3 separate regions of the Homo sapiens genome follow, and regions 1 and 3 are each reported to be linked to region 2. Evidence: microRNA targets listed by miRTarBase, many of them from high-throughput screens and not tested one by one. Region 2 holds a microRNA gene; each other region holds the end of a gene's coding sequence.

Region 1 (4,056 bases), not on the chromosome of region 2:
GTGATCCGCCCGCCTCAGCCTCCCAAAGTGCTGGGATTACAAGCGTGAGCCACTGCGCCCAGCTTAATTTTATATTTTTAGTAGAGACAGGGTTTCTCCATGTTGTTCAGACTGGTCTCAAACTCCCGTCCTCAGGTCATTTGCCTGCCTCAGCCTCCCAAAGTGCTGGGATTACAGGTGTGAGCCACCGCACCCAGCCCATATTCATATATTACATGTATATAATTTTTAAAAATTAGGAGCTAGGGGTAGGCACAGTGGCTCACACCTCTAATCCCAGTACTTTGGGAGGCCAAAGAGAGTGGATCACCTGAGGTCAGGAGTTCAAGAGCAGCCTGGCCAACATAGTGAAATACCATGTCTACTGAAAATACAAAAATTAGCTGGGTATGGTGGCAGGCGCCTGTAATCCTGGCTACTTGGGAGACTGAGGCATGAGAATCACTTGAACCCGGGAGGCGGAGGTTGCAGTGGGCCGAGATCATGCCACTGCACTCCAGTCTGCGCGATAGAGTGAGACTCTGTCTCAAAAATAAAATAAAATTAGGAGCTAGGAACTTTAATGTATAAAAGTTCATTTGTATTCAAATGAGGACTGAGGTCCAAACAATTGTTTCAACAGTGGGACCACAGCTGGGCCTTGGGGCATTACCCCTTTCATGTGGTTAGGATGGGGCTCTGAAGAACTATTGTGCTTGTCTGGAGACTGGGCAGCAAGCACAGATGGTGGGTGCAGGCTCTAATCCCACTGCTGGGAGGCAGCCTGTGGGTCTTGGGCTGACCTGGGACCTAACTTTTGGGGCAAACAGTTGGGCAGGAGGCAGTGGGGTGGCTGAGTTCGAAATCAAGTCCTCTCCTCCTCCCTCCTCTTCTCCTGCTTCAATCCCTGGGAGCTTTCATGTCACTCCACACCATTTCTGGCTGTTTTATTGGCATATTTTGTTGACGGCCCTGGAGTTCTCACCTTTTTCTTTTCTTTTCTTTTTTTCTCTGTCACCCAGCTTGGAGTACAGTGGCATGATCATAGTTCACTGCAGCCTGGGACTCCTGGGGTCCAGCAATCCTCCCATCTCAGCCTCCTGAGTAGCTGGGACTAAAGGCACACACCACCACACTCAGCAAATTTTTTTTTTTTTTTTTTTAGAGATGGGGTCTTGCTGGCCAGGAGCGGTGGCTCACACCTGTAATCCCAGCACTTTGGGAGGCCAAGGCAGGCGGATCACCTGAGGTTGGGAGTTCAAGACCAGCCTGACCAACATGGAGAAACCCTGTCTCTACTAAAAATACAAAATTAGCTGTGCGTGGTGGCACATGCCTGTAATCCTACTTGGGAGGCTGAGGTAGGAGAATCGCTTGAATCCAGGAGGCGGAGGTTGCGGTGAGCCGAGATCGCGCCATCGCACTCCAGCCTGGGCAACAAGAGTGAAACTACATCTCAAAAAAGAGAGAGATGGGGTCTTGCTGTCTCCCAAGCTGGTCTTGAACTCCTGGCCCAAGACAGTCCTCCCACCTGGGCCTCTGAAAGTGCTGGGGTTGCAGGTGTGAGCTACCGCACCCAGCCTAGTTCTCATCTCTCACATGCATGGAGGAGATTTCTTCCTCCTGGCTTGCATGTGACCCTGCTCACTCAGCACAGCCTCAGGTAGTATCGGATCTTCGTTTCAGTATTGACTCTCTCCCTCACTGGCTATAACAGCTTGAGGAAGACCATCCTCCCTCTGCCTCAGACTCAAGTGTCAAATAGGACTTATGCCACCAGCCCCAGCTGTCTCATGGGACTCTTAGACTGACAGAGGTGAAAATGCTCCAAGCACCTGAAGGTGGCGGAGCAGAAAGCTGACCAGCATCAGGTCCTGTAAGAACATCTTGGGAGAGAATGGAAAAGCCAGGTGCCTTCTGGGCCACACCTGGGAAGGGCACGGGGAAGGTCCCGGGACAGCTCTGAAGAATCTGTTGATCCTTCCCTTCTCGTAATTCCTCTCCACCAGAGGGTAGAGCAAATACAGGCCTCCCCTCACCTGGGAATGCCTTCCAGCTATGCAGCTGGGTCCTCATCTCTCATCTGCCTAAGACTTGCTGTAAATCTAGACCACGCCCCTCAACTTTTCTGAGCCCCAGTTCTTCATCTGTAGACTGTGTTCACACTGCCTCCGTTTTGGGAAACTTGAGACATGCATAAAAGCGTCTAGAGTGAGTATGGGATAACTAGGGCTGCTGCCCCTTCGCCATTGCCATGGGCCCCCACTGATCTCACAATTCAAAGCACCCCTACCACCCGTGAGGCACTCCTGTGTTGGCTGGAATCAGCCTGTGTTCTAGAATCTTGTCCCCTCCACTGTCCTCCTGGTTCTAGAATCCCACTGCTATTCCATACCAGGCACTTTAGAACCAGAGACTCTGCTGCTTTTCCTGGGCAGGGCCTGCTTGCTCCAGCTCTCAAGTCTGACTTGCATCTACACTGCGGGCAAGATGTGGCTGCAAGACCGCATCGCCACGTTCTTCTTCCCAAAAGGCATGATGCTCACCACGGCTGCGCTGATGCTCTTCTTCTTACACCTGGGCATCTTCATCAGAGACGTGCACAACTTCTGCATCACCTACCACTATGACCACATGAGCTTTCACTACACGGTCGTCCTGATGGTAGGCTCAGGGCAGGGACGCAAGGGCTGGCTGTGGGAGACCCGAGGGGCTGATGGAAACCCCACTGTTGTGCGAGGGGGCCACTCTCCCACTGGATGGGCCTACAGTTCTCCCAGGTGATCAGCATCTGCTGGGCTGCCATGGGGTCACTCTATGCTGAGATGACAGAAAACAAGTACGTCTGCTTCTCCGCCCTGACCATCCTGAGTGAGTGGCAGGAGTGGGAGGGTGCAAGAGGGAGCGGGGAGCTTTGGAACCCTGAGATGTGGCAAGGAGTAGCCAGGGAAGGGTACTGGGGCTCATGGGGGGCTCTGTCCCCCGCCCAGTGCTCAACGGAGCCATGTTCTTCAACCGCCTGTCCTTGGAGTTTCTGGCCATCGAGTACCGGGAGGAGCACCACTGAGGCCTGGGGAGTCGGAACAGGGCTAAGGAGGGGGAAGCAAAAGGCTGCCTCGGGTGTTTTAATAAAGTTGTTGTTTATTTCCACCTGCCAGCTCCTTCATGGGGCGAGGGGTCGGAGGCTGGAGACCCGGGAGGAAAGCAAGTCAAGACAAATGCTTGACCCACGGGGACTCCAGGCCTGGCCTGCAGCCACTCTGGTGGACTTGGCTTTGGGTCTGGGGTCTTAGTGTCTTAGGCTTGAGGGAGAGGGGCAGTGAAGAGGTGCCCTCAGCCTCCCCATTACCCCGCCTCTCCTCCACAGAACCCACATCCTAGGCTGGCCTAGCCACAAGCAAGGGGGCTCAGGAGGGGCCCACGCGGATGTGAGGGTTCATGAGTGGGTCCAGGTTGGGATCGCTGTCAGCTGCGGCCCGGCCTAGGCGAGACATGAGGGCAAGGAGGGCCAGGAAGCCCAGCAGTCCCAAGAGTAGCAGCAGCCCCGCCCGCTGGAGCAGGGTCAGCGGCCGCTTCCGAGACCCAGCCCGGCTCCTGGGGGGATGAGGGGAAAATCAGGTCAGGCCCCAGTCCCTGGTGGCCCCCGCGGCTGGAGAGAAGCCCTGGTCACCACCCATTCCTGAGCCTCCATCTCCTCGTCTGTGCCTCAGGGATGATCACTCCTGCACCTGCCACCATAGGGCGTTATTGTGCAGCTCAAACCAGCTGAGGCGCACGACTGTATTCTGGAAACCACAGTGTGTCAGACGTCGGGGAGAATTACAAAGATTAGGGGGTGTCAGATCGGGAAGGGGCCTCAAAGAGCCTGAGTTCAAACCTCCTGTGTAGGAGGCATAGAGACAGTCCCAGAGAGAAGCAAAACACAGCTTCTGCTGCACAGCCAAGGCCTCTCTGCACAGCCCCAGCACCAGGTACTGTTACTCCCCAGAACAAGCCCCTTTTGTCATGAAACCATCCCTTCCAGGACCTCTGGCTCCCATTCCCTCTCCACCCCTTCCTGGCATTCCGCCCTGCCTG
Region 2 (4,067 bases):
AGGAATCTAAATAGAAAGGGGTTTCTCAGGTCTAGGTAACTAATTCCCATGCAGACGGCCTTCAAATGCATTTCCCTTGCCTCCACAGTCCTCTGGTCTGGTTTTAGTTATTCTGTAGTAGAGGAAAGGCTTCATACATGTGTAATATTTATAGACAACATCATTGTAAAATGGAGTGCAAGTTCAAATCAGAGTTTTAAGGTCAGGAAAAATAAGTATCACTTAAATCATTCACCACTGACACTTTCAGAAGCTCTTAACTTCCTTTAGAAATCTCCCTTTCAAGCATGTGCCAATTTTTATTTTGGCAAATCATGAATAAAAACTAAATGTATAATACTTTTGATGATTACTCAGTGTGGTGCTATTTTTTAAACATTACTAACTTTATAGCAACACTCACATTACATTTAACTAACACATTTTGACAGTGTTTTATTTTCAGTAACTGACTTACTACAGTCCATTTTAAGAATTTTATGTTTTAGTTTATAGATATTTTATTATGCTGATATGTGAAATTTTAAAAATTATAGTAAGAAAAAAAACACATGAAAGCAATTAGTAAGGGTTTCTAATTTATGTTAAATATTAGTTTATCTTACCTAAGCACATGCATGGTAACTCTGTCCACGTAGTGGTAGAAACATAATACTGTAAACTTTAGAAGTTATTTTTTTTGTAAAATAAAAAATTGCATCCAGATCTTATTTCAATTATGAATAACACACTGTTGATGTTATTTTATTTATTTATATGTATATCTATATATATATATAGATATATTTTTTTTGAGATGGTAGGCTCGCTCTGTCGCCCAGGCTGGAGTTCAGTGGCACCATTTTGGCTCACCACAACCTCTCCCTCTCAGGTTCAAGCAATTCTCAGCCACCTCAGTAGCTGGGATTACAGGCACGTGCCACCACACCCAGCTAATTTTTGTATTTTTAATGGAGACAGGGTTTCACCATGTTGTTCAGATTGATCTCAAACTCCTGACCTCAAGTGATCCACCTGCCTCAGCCTCCTAAAGTGCTGGGATTACAGGCGTAAGCCACCGTGCCTGGACTGTTGATGTTACTTTAAAATAGTAGTTTACATTATTACTGTGGAAATGTGGGGCACAAGACATAAGAAATACTAGGTATTAATTTTGAAACTACCCGGAATGGCTTATGGAGGTTTGTATTTGTTGATTTAAAAATAATTAAAAATGCTGTAATTTTTACAAATTAAAAAGTTCCCATAACTAATTATTTACATGAACAAAATGAACAGATAAAAATGAAAAATGGAAAATTTAGGGGCAGTAAGGTAAGGAAGAGGATATAAAATAACATAGGAAGAGAACCTAAAGAAAGTGAAGGTCAAAGATTTAGGAAAAGTTTAACCATTTCTTCAAACCTATAGTCATTTACCTAGGAAATACGGTCGGGTGACCCCAGAAAAACAGCCGAGTTATTTGCTCCAGGGGTTTTCAGCTTACCAATTAAAATAGACCACATTCTCAGTTCCAGACCCAGGGCCTGGCAGAGGCCTCTCCAAGCCCCTTGCATTTCAGTGGCAGTTGATGAACCTCTCATGGCCCAGCATGACTAATAGAGTTTTGATAGCTTTATGTATGAGGGAAACTTAAAGACATTTCTAACACATATTTCTCTCCATCCCAGGTATTAGAAGAAATGCTACTATTTTAAATAGTGGTATGATCATACTGTTTTAGTATCACTTCTTTATCATCATCATCAATGGGTATTAAACAGGGAAAAGAAACTCTTTTACATTAATGGAAACACTATATATTTATAAAATACTGTGTTTTAGAGGACAAAAGATATCACTTTCATATCTTTTTAAAGTGTCTAGTTTCTATATAAGTGTATCCTTAATATTTCTATTATACACTTAAATATTTCTCTTATACACTTAAATATTTCTATTTAAGTGTATAATATTAAAAATATCCGCCATAAGAAAAATACGCATTTACAAAAAAGGAAAATTAGAAATTATGTCCATCACAGAAATCTTCTACAGGATTCTGAATCTTAAAATTGTCTTCATATATTTAGGATAGAATTTGATGTATTTATTATTTTTAAGAGATATGAGTTATTGCATAAAGCTAAGTTAAAAGTTCAACCAAATGGAAACAGTATCCACAAATTCCTAAAATACTATTCTAATCATCTGAAACAAGAATAGGTTTTTCAAATAATAGAGTTAGTTGAATCAGTATTTGTTTGTTTTAGACACTTTATTAAGCTGAGAGCTGCTACTTTATTACTTAAACACTAAGCCTATAAGGAAATAAAAGGGGTTTAATCCAAGTAATGTGAAAATAACTAACCCTTCATCTTACTTTTTTCCCCCAAATAATTGTGGTTTCATTAATGGATTTTTTTTTTGTGAATGGGTCTAAAAAACACCTATTTTGAAACTGCAGAAAGGGCAGGACAAAACAAATCACTTCATAGATTTTTCTGGGAAATATTGCCCTACTACGCTTTTAAAAAAAATAAAAATACTGTAACACATTTCCTCATTTCTCTTACGAATACTTTCTTTTTGATATTGCAAATTCTATGCATACACAGAGCACCTCCTCAATGCCCTGCTGAAGCCCTCTAAAAATGTACAGACATGGTTTTAAAGTGATTTAATTTATACCATTTTAATTCAGCTTTGTAAAAATGTATCAAAGAGATAGCAAGGTATTCAGTTTTAGTAAACAAGATAATTGCTCCTAAAGTAGCCCCTTGAAGTCCGAGGCAGTAGGCAGCTGCAAACATCCGACTGAAAGCCCATCTGTGGCTTCACAGCTTCCAGTCGAGGATGTTTACAGTCGCTCACTGTCAACAGCAATATACCTTCTTTAGCCTTCTGTTGGGTTAACCTGAAGAAGTAATCCCAGCAAGTGTTTCCAAGATGTGCAGGCAACGATTCTGTAAAGTACTGAAGCCTCATTCAAACAGCAATATTCTAGAAAATGTCTCAAATTCAAAACAAATAAGAAGGCTCATGGATGTCTATTATTCATCACCGAGCTTCTAGTTTCTATAAAATTTTGTGATATACTAAAACAACATATATAAATGGTTTCATTCATTATTGTTAGCCACAAGAAGTAAATAGGCAAGTGGCCAGGTTACTTAATATGATTTCAACATGCATTATGTAATTACAATCCTTTAAGCAAAAGTGACCAAACACAGAAACTAAATTATCTTAACAGCGTAAAGCGTACATTTAACATCAAATACTGCAGTTGAGTGAACTTAGACTACCGTGAAAATATAAAAGGTCTACTTGGAAAGTTATAAACTCTGACAAAAAAAAAAAAGACTTACATGCTGCTTTTATAGATCACTTTTGCTCTAAAGTCTGCTCCCAGAGAGGACTTGTACAGTCAGCTGATTTTTGAAAGAGTAAGCAACAATCAGGAGAAAAACAGAAAAGAATAACGAGGTATAACACAGGCATATATCAGTATGTGGATCAAAGTTTCCCACTGGAAAAACACAGAACCTATCACTCACAACAGTGACGCACATTAACTCCAAATTTGAATGTTTTGAATTCCACTCCCATTCTCTTATGAAAATAAATGAGGAAAACTGAAGGTTAAGCTCTATCAGTCACTACTTTCCTGAAGTAATTCAAAACCATTCTGAATCTAGTGAAAGATTAAGTTGATACAGAAAAGTGGGTGTGCCTTTCCCTGAGATTTGTTTTTAGATGAAGTTACCGTAAGGTTCTTAAATTGTGTAAGTCTTAGTAGTTTGTGATCTCAAACCCGAAACAAAAATAAAATCCACACAAAAAGCATCATGTTTACTGAAACTAACAAATATGAAGAACTCCATAAATTACTTTCTCAAAGCAAAGGGTAACTCTATCCCATTAAGGTTAAAAAAGTTAATCTTTGAGTCAGCAGGTGAAAACAAGCTGAATTATGTTGTGGCCTTTTTCTTTATTAACTAAGGACTTTGAACTATTAAAACTTCCTAGGGAACCAGTTTTCTCAATGGGTCAAGTCACACAGGGGAACAAAGCAAACTTTATCA
Region 3 (4,056 bases), not on the chromosome of region 2:
CATCTATCTTATGGATCAGCCAGCAGTGAATGCATAATAAAGAAATTCCTGGGGATAAAAGACCTGGGCTCTAGACCAATATCCTTCCTTGATTTACCCCATGACCTTGGAAAACTCCCTAAACTGCTCCAAGCTGCTTTCTCAAGAGTAAAAGAAATAGCTGTCCTGCATATATACACACCTACAGTCATATTCAAATGAGAAAATGAAAATGCTTTCTAAAACTCTAAATGAGCTTAGACAAAAATCTTTGGAAGGAAAGAATCAGATTATATTCAGGGACTATGAATCGCTTTTAATCTTCCAGTTTCCTCATTCACAAATGAGAGATCTGGCCCAAAGATAAAGCAGAATTAGAAAAGCTAGGTCACTTAAAAAAATACCATAATGAGCTGCATCTCAGATGGTTCAGTCATACTGTGAGCATCAACAGTGATTATTGCAAAGGTTTAAGAATAGTGAACGACTTTTCCAGGGCGTGAATATTAAGGTAAAAGCTATTTTAAAAATTCAGAAATGAATGAAGCAATAGTTATCGAAATGAGATAAAACCACAAAGCTGGCAAAGACTTATTAAACAGATATAAGAATGGACATTAAATAGGTTTAATGAATCCACTTCCTTTATTGCAGTAACCTCTGTACAAAGCAGCAACTGCAATACTCAAGGTTAAAACATTAGAAAAGCATTTGTGTGACAGGTATATTACAGTATTATCAAAATATTACATTTTCAGACTTACTTAGCAGATAATCATCCACCAGAGCTTAAATCTTTAAATTATTTCCATAGTCTTAAAAAATATGTAATGTCAGAATGCATATAAAAAGAATGTAAAAGGAAACCTAAAATACAAATGGAATAATGTAACAAATAAATATTTGATTTCAGTAACTGTTAATAATCAGCTCAACACCACCATTCTCTCTAAACTCAATTTAATTCTTATAGGAATAATGAACTGTCAAATGCCATGGCATAATTATTTATTTCCAAGCTATCATCAATGATTAGAACTAAAAAAAATTTGGCATAAAAAAATCACAATTCAGCATAAATAAAGCTATTTTTAGCTTCAACACTAGCTAGCATCTCTAAGAATTGTTGAAATAAGTACTATAACCTTGAAAATTTTCGACCTGGTGTCTAGTGTTAAGTGAAAGTAATGCATTTTTTTTAAGTGAAAAGCTTCTTACATTATTTCACAGACAGTATTACCCACCCCACATTATGAATAGTTAGATATATTTTATGTACTTTATACCCACATGTATGACGCATGACATTTGGTTCCTGTAGTACAGATCACAATGTTGTTTTCCTGAATGGGAAAAACTTAAAAAAAAAAAAAAAAAAGGTAAGTGTACCTGTGCACATTTCAAGATAGCAGCACTCAGTCCATGCCCTATTATCCATCTTAAAAGTTCACACATTATTGTTTACTGAATAATATTTCTACTGTCTTTACCCCCAAACATTGCAAAACCTGCAATGGAACAATGCTGTGAGTTATAATGTAGAAATTTTTTTTTTTTTTTTTTTTAGAAAATCAGTTACTTCATTTTCTTAATATTCTGAATTCAAGTTATCAGATCTCTATACCTAGGTCATACTCATGAAGCAAAAATGCTGCACACCACTGAAAATAATAACGTTATAGATGTCTATCAAGATTCATGAAAACCAGCCAGGCGCAGTGGCTCGCACCTGTAATCCCAGCACTCTGGGAGGCTGAGGCGGGTGGATCACAAGGTCAAGAGATAGACACCATCCTAGCCAACACGGTGAAACCCTGTCTCTACTCAAAATACAAAAATTAGCTGGGCATGGTGGCGTGCACCCGTAGTCCCAGCTACTAGGGAGGCTGAGGCAGGAGAATCGCTTGAACTGGGGAGGTGGAGGTCGCAGTGAGCCAAGATCACGTTACTGCATTCCAGCGTGGCAACAGAGCAAGACTCCGTCTCAAAAAAAAAAAAAAAAAAAAAAAAGGATTCGTGAAAACCTGCATAAATTTTCCACCACAGAAACTTGTATCAATTAACCCACTTAACAGTATTTTAGGCGAAGTATTCTCCATTTTTGAACTGGAAAATTGTGTGAAATTACAGCATGCCCTTCAAATGATCACCTTTGTTCTCTATGAAACCTGTATCTGTTAATCTGATTTTGAACATATGTTTACTTAAACCAAAGTTTGCCTAATGAATCTTGATCACTTTAAAATGCAAAATACCAGCAACATAAATTTCATTATATATACACATATGCATCTGTGTATGCATATTACATATATATACACACACACACACAAATATGTAGACATAAATCCCTTGAAATGTTTTCAGGAAATCCTTCCTTGAATTATAAATGAAAAACTTCACATTAATAATTTCATATAAAGCTTTTAGTAACAGTACATATGCACTGTCAAAATTTTACTAGACTATGATGTCAAAACAGACATTTCAAAAGCACAAACTGGCAGTTTTTCTTAACAAAAGTTTTAAAATATTAAGAATGGATTAAATTTTAATATTCAGAATAATCTGTTCAAACCTGAGTGTATTAAGACTAAGTGTACTTGACAATTGAATGAATTAAGCCTAAAAACATTTCTCTAAGAAACCAGTGGTCCATTTAACCATTTGATGAAACATTATTTTAATGACTTATAAAGGATAGTACAGTATACTGAAATTCCACTTAAATACTGAAATATTCTACTAAATGACATTGTTTTGTCTAAATTTCCTCCAGAAAAATCTGTTAGCATTTCTTAAAAGTCCCTCAGATTTGAGGGAAATTCTAAATTAGGACAGTTTTCTCTCCAAATAAATATAAATGATCTTGAGTATTTTTGTTTAAAGAATGACGTGATTTTTAAGCATGGTATATAGAAGTATGGGATGAATCTTCAATCTTCCCTAAGGTTTCAATAAATAATAATAAATATAGTAATAATAGCCAATCAGAGGGGTTAAAAAGGTATTTGGGGGGGCTTTTTTTCCTAGCTCTATATTCACATATACTCATATAAACCTTACCATGGGGTTACTTTTTGGTTACCATTTCCCCTTCCCCATTTTTGATTAACCTGCCCTAATTCTCACCTTTAATATCTAACAGATACCTTTATAGAATTAACAAAACACATACAGTACTCAACACTAAATGGTCAATGGAAGAAGACAAGCAGTGTTCATTTTGTTTTAAAGTGGAAGAGACTAGAAATAAAAACAGTTGAAGGCAAAGTTTGACATTCTATAAGTTTATAAAAGAGGATATATGGATGAAATTTGGTTAATTTCAGAAGGCACCTCAAGGCTAAAGGCTTTTTGTACTTCTTTCATCAATCAAAAAGTTAACACGCTTTTATTGCTATTCAAGTAGCAAAGGAAAACTACTCTCACAAACTTCAGTTCAACAGAGAAGAATCACCATTAAGATTGAGATATGGAATTGACTAAAACCGAAGTCTCCATACACGTTATCAATGGAGCAACTTTCCTGTGTGCTTTCAAATTAATGAAATCGTGAAAGAAAAGTCACCATTCGCCATTGTGATGTTAATGTGTCATTGAAGATTTCAGTTACTACACTAGGCACTGAAGTACCATTCTGGAGGGCTGTCCACTGTATAGAACATTTATGAATAGAAGGTAAGGACACTCTGATGATTCCCACGAACTAGGAGGATTGGTGGTAGGTCCTTAGATAGAGCTTCTAACCATGCCATGTAGAGAGCACTAGACACAGCACCTTTTCGTGCAACTGGGAGACTCCTGGTATCAAAAAGAGAAAAAGAAAAAAAAAAAACCCTGAGCAATGCATTTACAGAATAAAATGTAGCAAAAATTATAAAGTAGATTACAATAACAGTTACTGTAAATTACTATAATTACAGAATATTTCTGAGTGCAGGAGAATTCTGCAAATAGAATAACAACCACAGTTGTGTTGCTTAGCGATGGAGACGCATTTCTCAGAACTTACTGTCAGGCAATTTTGCCCTCGTGAAAACATCACAGGAGTACTTACACAAACCTAGATGGTAT

Evidence for each region. Region 2 holds the annotated microRNA hsa-miR-30a-5p (UGUAAACAUCCUCGACUGGAAG, at 2,823-2,844, opposite strand). A microRNA usually pairs through its seed, bases 2 to 8, with sites in the 3' UTR of a target mRNA and lowers its output. Matches are read on the target gene's strand: a 7mer-m8 pairs with bases 2 to 8, a 7mer-A1 pairs with bases 2 to 7 and ends in A, and an 8mer does both.
Region 1: miRTarBase lists ZFPL1 as a target of hsa-miR-30a-5p. The part of its 3' UTR that is shown has no 7-base or 8-base seed match.
Region 3: miRTarBase lists SLC12A2 as a target of hsa-miR-30a-5p. The part of its 3' UTR that is shown has no 7-base or 8-base seed match.

Annotation. Positions count from the first base shown.
Region 1 is chr11:65,087,445-65,091,500 of GRCh38, reverse strand. ZFPL1 (zinc finger protein like 1) reads right to left here. Exons shown (of 8, transcript NM_006782.4): 8 at 3,103-3,573. The coding sequence ends at 3,387. It overlaps CATSPERH (catsper channel auxiliary subunit eta), which reads left to right and starts at 2,391. Exons shown (of 3, transcript NM_001282448.2): 1 at 2,391-2,643; 2 at 2,751-2,850; 3 at 2,970-3,125. The coding sequence starts at 2,470. The coding sequence ends at 3,046. RefSeq lists a silencer at 1,433-1,605.
Region 2 is chr6:71,400,773-71,404,839 of GRCh38, forward strand. It overlaps MIR30A (microRNA 30a), which reads right to left and starts at 2,849; the gene lies at 2,779-2,849. RefSeq lists an enhancer at 1,317-1,845.
Region 3 is chr5:128,186,223-128,190,278 of GRCh38, reverse strand. SLC12A2 (solute carrier family 12 member 2) reads right to left here. Exons shown (of 27, transcript NM_001046.3): 27 at 602-3,783. The coding sequence ends at 3,648. Among named protein-coding and RNA genes, the nearest start is that of SLC12A2, 100 kb to the right of the region's middle.